Linked DNA regions of Homo sapiens: region 1 is linked to region 2. Evidence: fine-mapped expression QTL. A gene starts in region 2. The other region holds a variant in brackets. All regions are shown on one strand. Distances are between the middles of the regions.

Evidence for each region.
Region 1: its variant is fine-mapped to the expression of GPR55 in whole blood (TOPMed, PIP 0.94).

Annotation. Positions count from the first base shown.
Region 1 is chr2:230,979,423-230,984,793 of GRCh38, reverse strand. It overlaps SPATA3-AS1 (SPATA3 antisense RNA 1), which reads left to right. Exons shown (of 6, transcript NR_033879.1): 6 at 1-426. Among named protein-coding and RNA genes, the nearest start is that of SPATA3-AS1, 14 kb to the left of the region's middle. RefSeq lists an enhancer at 2,905-3,044. The variant C/T (reference allele first, on the strand shown) is at 2,299.
Region 2 is chr2:230,922,885-230,928,255 of GRCh38, reverse strand. GPR55 (G protein-coupled receptor 55) reads left to right here and starts at 3,014. Exons shown (of 2, transcript NM_005683.4): 1 at 3,014-3,088. RefSeq lists a silencer at 1,578-1,757 and enhancers at 1,978-2,207, 3,028-3,077, 3,198-3,317, 2,881-3,669.

The DNA.
Region 1 (5,371 bases), 57 kb before region 2:
CAGGGGGCTTGGAAATAGGCCCTGAAGAGGGGGTCGCTTGCGTGGCTAGGAAGGGGTTGGGGCCCACTAGCATTTCTCAGAATGCCTATTTTCTTCGGCAGTGAGAGCTGGAGGGAGGGATGGGTTTCTCAGCACAGTTCCAGTATGAGTGGCTGTCACCACAGGGCGCCATTGCCAAGTCAGAAAGAAACAAAGCTTAACCGCTGCCTCCTGTCCCCCATGGTCTGTGAAAGTCTCATACTGTAGTGCGTCTAATGGTGGCCCCCCAAAAGATACATCTACATTATAATTCCTGGGACCCAGAAATGTGACCTTATTTGGAAAAAGGGTCTTTGACCTTATTTGGAAAAAGCGTCTTTACAAATGTAAGTGACCTTATTTGGAAAAAGTGTCTTTACAAATGTAATTTACAACATTGAATGAGCACCTGCTCTGTGTGGAGCTCCCTATGTGGCCCAGGCTGGTCTTAAGGATCGTGTGTGTGTGTGTGTGTGTGTGTGTGTGTGTGTGTGAGAGAGATAGGGTCTCACTGTGTCATCCAGGCTGGAAGGCAGTGGCACAATCACGGCTCACTGCAGCCTCAACCTCCCAGGCTCAAGCGATCCTCTGGCCTCAGCCTCCCGAGTAGCTGGGACTAGGGTTGCACACCACCACTCCTGGTTAATTTTTTGTGTGTATTTTTTGTAGAGACGAGGTCTCCCTAAGTTGCCCACGCTGGTCTTGAACTCCTGGGCTCAAGTGACCCACCTGCCTCGGCCTCTCAAAATGCTGAGATTATAGGCATGAGCCACTGTGCCCGGTTCAAGTTAAAGATCTTGAGATGAAATGATTCTTGGGATCATTATCTTGGACGGATTGTAAATCCCAGGATGAATGTCCTTATATGAGACGCGCAGAGGAGAGACACAGAGATGGAAGAGGAGAAGGCCATGTGAAGGCAGAGGCAGCGACTTGAGAGTTGCAGCCACAAGCCAGGATGGCCTGGAAGAGGCAGGAGCAGACTCTTCTTAGAGCCTCCAGAGGGAGTGTGGCCCTGCTGACACCTTGATCTTGGACCCTTGGCCCATCAGAGCTGTAAGAGAGTAAGTTTCTGCTGTTTGAGGTCATCTGCTGCAGGAGCCCCCAGGAACAAATACACCTCCCAATCCCATTTTTAATTCCCGAGGGTTTGCACCCCCAGGACACTTCTTCCACACATGCCCTGTTGTGCTCCGTATTGCCCTGTGTCCATTTGGAAGTGGGACTCCATCCTGTTGATACGTTCCACATAAAATATACTTGTACCAAAAATGTCTTGTTTTTAGGAGACTGTGGGGGATGGGAGTTGGGGGAAGGGTTCCATTTTCCAGGGCAATTATAGCTGTCCCTCAGTATCCTAAAGGGTTTGGTTCCAGGACTCCTGCAGGTACCAAAATTCAAGGATGTCCAAGTCTCTGATATAAAATGGCATAGTATTTGTAAATAACCTATGCACATTCTCCTGTATACTTTAAATCATCTCTAGATTATTTGTAATACCTAATACAATGTAAGTGCTGTGTAAATAGTTATTGTACTGTATTAGTTTTAAAATTTGTGTTATTTATTATTATTATTTTGAGACAGAGTCTCGCTCTGTCGCCAGGCTGGAGTGCAGTGGCATGATCTTGGCTCACTGTACCCTCCGCCTTCCAGGTTCAAGCGATTCTCCTGCCTCAGACTCCTGAGGAGCTGGGACTACAGGTGCATGCCACCACGCCCAGCTAATTTTTGTATTTTTAGTAGAGATGGGGTTTCACCATGTTGGCCAGGATGGTCTCGATCTCTTGACCTCATGATCCTCCCACCTTAGCCTCCCAAAGAGCTGGGATTACAGATGTGAGCCACCGTGCCTGGCCTATTGTTGCTATTATTAAAAAAAAAATTTGGAGATGAGGTCTCAGTCTGTTGCCCAGGCTGGAGTGTAGTGACATGATTATGGCTCACTGCAGCCTCAAACTCCTGGACTCAAGCTATCCTGCCACCTCAGCCTGCCGAGTAGCTGAGACTACAGGTTCGTGCCACCACACCTGGCTAATTTTTGTTTTTTTGGTTTTTGTAGAGCTGTGATCTCATTATGTGTTGTCCAGGCTGGTCTCAAACTCCTGGCCTCAAGTGATCCTCCCACCACAGTGCTGGGATGGCAGGTGTGAGCCACTGTGTCTGGCCTGTTGTTATTTTTAAATTGCTTTTCTTTTTTCAAATATTTTTGATCCATGGTTGATTGAAATCTTGGATGTGGAACCAGGGGGTAACTGAGGGCGAATTGCACTGGGCTTT[C/T]CCTTGACTAAATTTGGGCAAAATAAAATGATCTCTAACCTTTGTAAAGCTAATCAGACACCTCTAGGGTAGCAAATCCTAAAAGAAAAAGATCAGGCATATGAGTGCGTGTGTGTGTGCACGTGTATCTGTGTTGCCAAGCTGTTCCCTCCCCCACCCCCACCACTTTGCTTTTGGAGGCAAAGGAAAGGCACCCTCCTGGCTAGCAGGCCAGATGAGCCTTGTCACCTGGGGGATAGGATGCGACCCAGATCTGCTCCTGAGCACAAAGATGAGCAAAATCAAAGGAAATTGCATGAGACTGAAGACCTTCTGTGTGGTCCTCCTGGGAGTGGCAGAAGTTTCTGGTGGAGGCGCAAAACAGGCCCCTGCTACACATAACTTCCATAACCACCAATCCACAGGCAATCCACCCACCCACACCACATCCCAGGCCTCTCCTTTCCGTGCCTGACCTGTGCTCCCGTGGCCTGCATGGGTGTGAGTCGCCTCTTTCTCCACTGCAGGCCTCTTCCAGGATGTCCTGGTGAAGAACACCACTGCCTGTCCAATTATACTAGTCAGAACCCTGGGAGTGTCTCTTGACACTCCTTCTCATCGTCCGCCAAACCCAGCCCATCCCCAAAGCCTGTTGATTGTATTTCCTGCTTGTCACACAAATGCCACCAGCTTTGATGGGCACCTTGTTCCTCCCCTTTGTGGTACTTGTCACAGTTGCAATTTGCCTGTGAGCTCCGCAGAAGACAGATGCCACGGCTGCTTATTCCTTGTCGTGTCCCTGGTTCCTAAAACAGTGCCTCGTGCATCACTGGTGTTCAATAAATACTTGCCAAATCATTGAATAAATAAGCAAATGAATGAAGGAATGCAGTTTTGAGTGAGGATGGTGTTGAAAAGGAATAAAGCCTTCCCCAGTAGTGCCTGAGGTCCATGTAAGAATGTCCTAGATGATAAGACAGGAGACACACGGGCGTGGTAGATGGGCTCTCCCCACCCCTCCCCATAAGAGTGCAAAGCTGGGACAAGCCAGAGGCTTCACAGGCCTGGTAACTGGGGGGTAGGGTTTGGTGATTCCTACCCAGGGCTGGGGGCATCGGGAGGCTCTTCCTCTCTACCTGGACTGTGTTTACCAGGTGTGTTTCCCATTCATTATTTTCCAGTGGGTACTGGGTTCAAAGTTTCTATAAGCAGTGGGGGCTTTGAGGTTCGAGGAAAGTGTAGTATAGCTTTCTCTTCCTTTTAGGAAGATTTCTGTTTTTCTTTTTCTTTTTTTTTTTTTTTTTTTGAGACAGAGTCTTGCTCTGTCACCCCAGCTGGAGTGCAGTGGCATGATCGAGGCTCACTCCAACCTCCGCCTCCCAGGTTCAAGTGATTCTTGTGCCTCAGACTCCTGAGTAGCTGGGATTACAGACATGAGCCTCTGCACCCGTCCTAGGAAGATTTCAAAACGAAGATGAGTCTATTGTAATTTAGAGGGCCATTTTAAACTCCCTGTGTTGGTGGCAGATGGTTTGGGTCTGGCAGCTAGCTCTATCCCAACCTTCTCTATCCACCCTGCAACTCCCTCCCCTCCCCCTCACATTTTATTTTGAAATTTTCAAACATTCTGAAAAGTTCAAAGAAGAGTACAATGAACTTACCCTGGATTCTCCAACTGTTAACATTTTGCCACAATTGCTTTGTCTCTGTTGGTCTCTCTCTGTCTTTGTATATTTCCACATACTTTTATTTTGCTGAGCAATTTGAAAGCAAGTTGCTGACATCTTGACACTTCACTTCTAGATATCTCAGCATCTCCTAATAAGGATATTCTCCCACAAAACCACAATACCATGATCACAACCATAATAGCACCCAGTGTACTATCTGTATTCAAATCTCTACAGTTGTCCCCGGAAGAGCTTTTAATGCTGGATTTTTTTTTCCTATCCAGGATCCAATCAAGATCATGTATGATATTTGGTTGTTATGGCTCTTCAGTCTCTTTTCATCTGAAACAGTCTTTCACCTTTTTATTGTTGTTGTTGTTCTTTGTTTATGTGAAATTAGTTTTTGATAAAGAGTCCAGGACAGTTGTCTTGTAGAGTGTCCCATATGTGGGTTAATCTGATTGCTTACACAAGATTAGATGCAGGTTGAATATCTTTGGCCAGAGTTCTGTACTGCATAGGTGCCACTGTAGACTTCTCAGTCAAGTATCACATCTGGAGTAAATAATGTCAATATCACATCTGGAGTAAATAATGTCAGGCATCACAACTGGAGTAAATAATGTCAGTATCACATCTGGAGTAAATAATGTCAGTATCACATCTGGAGTAAATAATGTCAGTATCATATCTGGAGTAAATAATGTCAGTTATCACATCTGGAGTAAATAATGTCAGGCATCACATCTGGAGTAAATAATGTCAGGCATCACATCTGGAGTAAATAATGTCAGGCATCACATCTGGAGTAAATAATGTCAATATCACATCTGGAGTAAATAATGTCAGTTATCACATCTGGAGTAAATAATGTCAGTTATCACATCTGGAGTAAATAATGTCAGTTATCACATCTGGAGTAAATAATGTCAGGTATCACATCTGGAGTAAATAATGTCAGTATCACATCTGGAGTAAATAATGTCAGTATCACATCTGGAGTAAATAATGTCAGTATCACATCTGGAGTAAATAATGTCAGGCATCACATCTGGAGTAAATAATGTCAGGTATCACATCTGGAGTAAATAATGTCAGTATCACATCTGGAGTAAATAATGTCAATATCACATCTGGAGTAAATAATGTCAGGTATCACATCTGCAGTAAATAATGTCAGTATCACACCTGGAGTAAATAATGTCAGGCATTACATCTGGAATAAATAATGTCAGTATCACATCTGCAGTAAATAATGTCAGTTATCACATCTGGAGTAAATAATGTCAGGCATCACATCTGGAGTAAATAATGTCAGTATCACATCTGGAGTAAATAATGTCAGGTATCACATCTGCAGTAAAAAACATCAGTATCACATCTGGAGTAAATAACATCAGGTATCACATCGGGAGTAAATAATG
Region 2 (5,371 bases):
ATCCCAACCCAACCCCTGCTGCCCCAGTGGGTCTGTCACATGCTGCCCCTGTGCCAAGCGTGTGTTCCCTGGGACCCCGGGGCGGCCCGTGCCCCTGGTTCCTGCCTGGCCAGCTTCCAGCCTCGGCTCCTGCCATTCCCCCCTTACCCTGGTGCAGAGGGTGCCCGGGCCCTCACCAACCCCGTGCCCCTCCTGCCTGTGCCTGCACCTGGGCTGCCCTCCTCCAGCATCCTCCTCCCTCCCCGTGTCTCTTAGGGTTCAGCTCTTGCCCCTGCCCCTGTTCCCTGACCAGCTCTCTGGGGCAGGCTTGGGAGCACTTCTTGCACAGCTCTGGGCCAAGTGGTCACCCTGCAAACCCCCTGGTGGGCAGGTTTCCCCCCTTGGAGGGAAAGGATGCCCCACGAGGGCAGGGCCAGGCCTCTGGCTGCTGAAGGAGCGAATTTCACCAGCGTCAGGGGAGGATGTGGTGAGCGCCCAGCTATCCTGGACCCGCTCTTTGATAAACACAGTCAGATTCACTTGTTCCTTGCCCTAGAAGAAGCTGGTTCCTGAAGCTCCGAAGCTGCTCCACTGGTGAAGTCGAAGGTGTGTGCCCCCAAACCCCCCAACTCGGGGCTCCCAGCCTGGAAGACAGGCAGGGACCTGCCCAGGCTCCCAAAACCTCCAAGTGATTCTGGATGGTGAGAGGGTGGGCAGGACTAGGGGGAGAAGTTTCAGGAGGCTTAAGGGAAATTTTCTGAGAAAGGTCTTCCTATTTATGACTCCCCAGGCCTGTGGCAAGGGGAGGCGAAAAGCTCGAGGGACAGGCCTGAGCCTTAGGACGGGGCCTTGGGCGAGTCCCTGCCTAGCCTTGCTCTTAGGAGCTCAAACCTTTGAGTCTCTCTGGAGACGTATCTTGGCAAGGGATCCCCCATATACCTTGGATATCCCCCAAGGTATCCAAGGGATACCCACAGGAGAGGGAGGTGGACAATGCCTTCTACTGCAGAGCAGCTCGTGTGGTCTCTAGCTTCTGTGTCAAAAGAGGGAGAAAATAAGAGCTCAGGTGTACACGGGCGGGCACAGAAACTCTGGAAGAAACTTAACAGTGGTGCCCTGGGGGGTAGGTGAGAGCTGGATTTAGGAGTGGGACAGATATTTTCCTATATGTGTTTACATATGTATTTGAATCATGTGCATGTTTTCAAAAATTTAAAAATTTAAAAATTTTAATATTGCAACAGCAATAAAGTAGAAATATTCATTTCTTAAAAGAAGGTAGCCAGGGCCGGGAGCGGTGGCTCACATCTGTAATCCTAACACTTTGGGAGGCCGAGGTGGGTGAATCACGAGGTCGGGAGTTCAAGACCAGCCTGACCAACATGGTGAAACCTTGTCTCTACTAAAAATACGAAAAAAGTTAGTCGGGCCTGGTGGCACAAGCCTGTAATCCCAGCTACTCAGGAGGCTGAGGCAGGAGAATCACTTGAACCCGGGAAGTGGAGGTTGCAGTGAGCCAAGATAGTGCCACTGCACTGCAGCCTGGGCAACAGAGCGAGACTCTGTATCAAAAAAAAAAAAAAAAAAAAAAAAAGAAGGTAGCCAGAATGGGAGTAGACAAGGCTCCCTTTGAGAAGGGGCTGAGCAGAGACACTGCTCCCTGCAGGCCACTCAGTGTGGATGCCTTCCTGGGGCCTCACATTGCAGGCTCTGGGTATGGAGGTGGGTGCCAGACACCGGTGTGTTTCCTCCCTGCTACTGTCCCAGCAGGCTCCTGGCCTCCTCCCGCACCCAGGGTGCGGGCCTGGCTGCCCCCCCTTGCCCAGTAGCCAGCCTTTGGCTTAGATTGGGCTGGTGGCCCAGTAGGGGGGCCTCGCTGGGGGCAGGACTGCCCTGTGCCCTGTCTTGGCACCCAGGCCAGCTTGGGGCTCCACGGCCTGGAGCAGGCAGTGGACTTGGCACTGCCCATCGCACAAGCCCAGGTGAGAGCTTAAAAGTTGTCATGGTTCCATCAACCTCTTCACCAGACAGTGGGAAGACCCAGCTCCAGAGGGCCAGGTGGTTCCCCTGCAGTGACTTGCAAGGTGTTATTTACAGAGGGGACCCATGTGTTGGATGAATCATCCAAAAAACCCAGGAGTAGTTTCTATTCCTGTAGACACCTGAAAGTCCCAGCACGCATAGCTTTTAAAAATTGCTTGTGTTTGGTCCTCCGACAGGGCCTCCCAGCACCTCCAGGGCATGAGAGCTGCATCTGCCGGGGTAGTTTCAGCCCAGACTTTCCTGATGGGCTGGAATCTATGAGGGCTCCCAGCTAAGAGCCACCCAGGCCCACGGGTGAGTCTCAGCCCTCCCAGCCCTGAAGGTGGGAGATGCCAGGGAAATCTCTGCTTGCAGGGCCCTAGGAAGCCACAGGCCCAAGGCTGCCCCAAATCTCTGTGCAGGCCTGGGACAGAGAAGCCGAGGCTGGGGAACCTGTGGGGCCCCACTGACCATTCTTGCAGACACACATGCAGTGGCTGAGGTCTCCTCCGACGCTAGGCACGCAAGTCCTAACCTGCAAGTACTAAATAGCACCACCTTCCTTTCCTTTCTGTGGGCAGCAGTTTCAAATCCTAAACCCCCAAAGTGCTGGAAGCCACGACGGCCCTTGGCAGGTGCTGAGAATGGCTGCCCCTGTGTGGTGCCCCTGTTAGGGTGTCTGGGGTGCGTAGGAGGCTTCCTCCTCCAGAGGCTTCCCAGGGCTTGACACATGCAGTGTGATTTTTGGCTTTTTGGTTTTTTGTTTTGTTTTTTGGAGCTGCGGGAGGGGGGCGTGCAGATCTTCCAAGAGGGCGGGAGAGTGTAGACCCTCCTCCTGGAAACTGCTCCCCATGTCCACACTCTAGTTCCACACAGCCTCTCTGTAGACCCCAGAGCAAGAGCCCCTAAGCCAGACAGGGTGACACTGGAGCGGCTCAAAGAGCATCTGGTCCCACCCCTTTATTTCACTCACAAGGAAGTCGAGACCCAGAGAGGGGAAGTGACTCTCCCCAGAACAGGCTGACAGCCAGGCCTGGAGGAGAAATGACATCTCTCAGCCCTCTCAGCTGCACCGGACCACCAACAGGTAACAGCCTCTGGGCCATTTAGAGAAACTAAGGCACGGAGCCTCCAACCTGACCTTGCTCTTGTGGACTGCAGGTAACTCTCCTAAGATCAGTGGGGCTTGTGTGGGCCTGGGCTTTGTGCACACCTGTCCCAACTCAGCGAGCAGTCCCAGGTGTCAGGGCAGCGGCAGCCTCCAGGCAGCCTCCGTGACAGCAGCAGCGGCAGGCAGACCTGGTTTGTCCCCGATTACGAGTGACATTTTTCTACGAACCCTCAACTTCCTCCTGATCTGACTCAGGGTTGCAGCATCATGTCGGGTCGGGAAACCTCCCCATAGGCAGCCTGGGAGCCTTCCCGGGGCATGTAGCTCACGTGCCACCGCCCTCCACCAAGCCCGCCGCCCATTCCCCAGAATCTTGTTGGGAAACCACCAAGCGCCCGAGATGACACACTCTCAGGGATCATCCTGCAGCCCTGAGCAAGTGCTTACTGGGGACCAGAAGGAGCCTGGGAGCCCAGGCTCACCCACTCACCAGCTGCGTAATTTCTCTAGCCTCCGTTTACCTCTCTGGGGCATGAGGCAATACACGGTTTCTTCCTCACGGGGCGCTCAAGGGCAGTAAATGATGGAGAGGAAAGCCCTGGTTGCTATCCTACATTATAGCTGCATTGTTCTCTAACCCTAGCCAAGTGTCTCTTGGAGAGGCTGGGCGGGAAGACACAGCAGCACTTAGAACCCTGAACATTCTAGATTCTTCCCTGAGAGTGAGAACACAAAGTCAGGACATGTCTGGCTGGCCTGGCTTCACCTGGGCTTTGTGCTGCCCGAGGCAGTGGGGATGAGAGGACAGGGCAGGGCAAAGTGCCGCCCACAGCTCTGTGGAAGGCAAGGTTTGCCTTTGGTTCTGAGCGGCTGTCCCAGCTGTAAAGGGAGCACCAGTCACTGTGGAGCTGCAGCAGACCTGGCCATTTGTTCCGTCATTTCTTCACCCCCTCTTTCATGCAATAAGACCTTCCCAACGACAAACTGTATGTGAGGCTCGGTGATAAAGGTGAAAGGGACATGGTCCTGGTCCTGGGGTTGCTGGAGGACAGCAGGGACACGCTCCCCCTGGGATACACAGAGGACTTTTCAAGGCACCCACTCAGGACTGCACTGGGAAAACCACATCAGATGATGTGGGTGAACCTGGGAAGTGGGCATTTCAAGGAAGAGGTGGGATTTTTAGCAGTGGAGGAGAGAGTCCAAGGAGAAAGAGGAGCATGAGCATGCAAAGAAGTGAGGAGGGGGCTTGGCAACTCCTGGATCCCAGATGCTCTTGCTTGTGATGCTGATGGGGGCCAGGGTGAGCGAGGAGGAGAGACTCAGAACATGAGTTCCAGCTGGTCCCTCACGGCCTTTTTGACCTTGGGTAGAATCTTTAACATCTCTAAGCCTTACTGTCCTTATCTGTAAAATGGGCATAATTAGGGCAATCTCCTAGGAGTGTCCTGAGTTCCCATCGTAGATCACTGAGCACACTGCTGGCCACCTTTCACGTCCCCAAGCCGGCCCCTCCCCTCTCCCAGCCCCACTCCAACCCCCCAGCCCAAGCTCCAGCAACATTCAGGCATTGGGGAGATTGTGGTCATGTGCTCTGTCCCCTCTGTGTCCTGTTCCTTCTTCTATCGTGGCCCCCAGAAGCCCAGCTCAGGCACAGGCGGATGACTTTATTCACACTATGGTGTTACTGGTGGATACGCTGTGTATTCTAACTGCGGCATTTTTGGGGGAGTATTCCAGGGCTCCTCAAATCCATCCCTGCGGCTGTGCCAATGCTGCTTTTTTAGGCTCTGGCCCTGCCATCTCTGAGGTGGCTCACGCTGCAATGCTCTGTGCAGATAACAGCCTGGCAGCTGCAGGAAGGGCCACCTTCTCAGTTGCAACCCTCCTTAGGGTTGTGATCTTCTTGTTGCTTGTGTTCTCTGGAAAGTCCAGGCCACAGAGGGAAGAAAGGTAGGTCTGGTGTGGAGCCACATAGCTGGGTTTCGAGGTCTCAGCTGTGCAGGCAAAGCCACAGGGCTGCCGCAAGTGGGACACTGGATCCTTGAGGGTGTGGGCGGATGAGGGTACCATGGACCACTGGCAGTTGCGGGAATCCCAGCTGCAGAATGTGTAGAGTCAGCAATTAAGAACCAGCACAGGCCGGGTGCTCGGGCTCACGCCTGTAATCCCAGCAGTTTGGGAGGCAGAGGCAAGAGGATTGCTCGATCCCAGAAATTTGAGGCCAGCCTGGGCAACACAGTAAGACCTTGTCTCTAC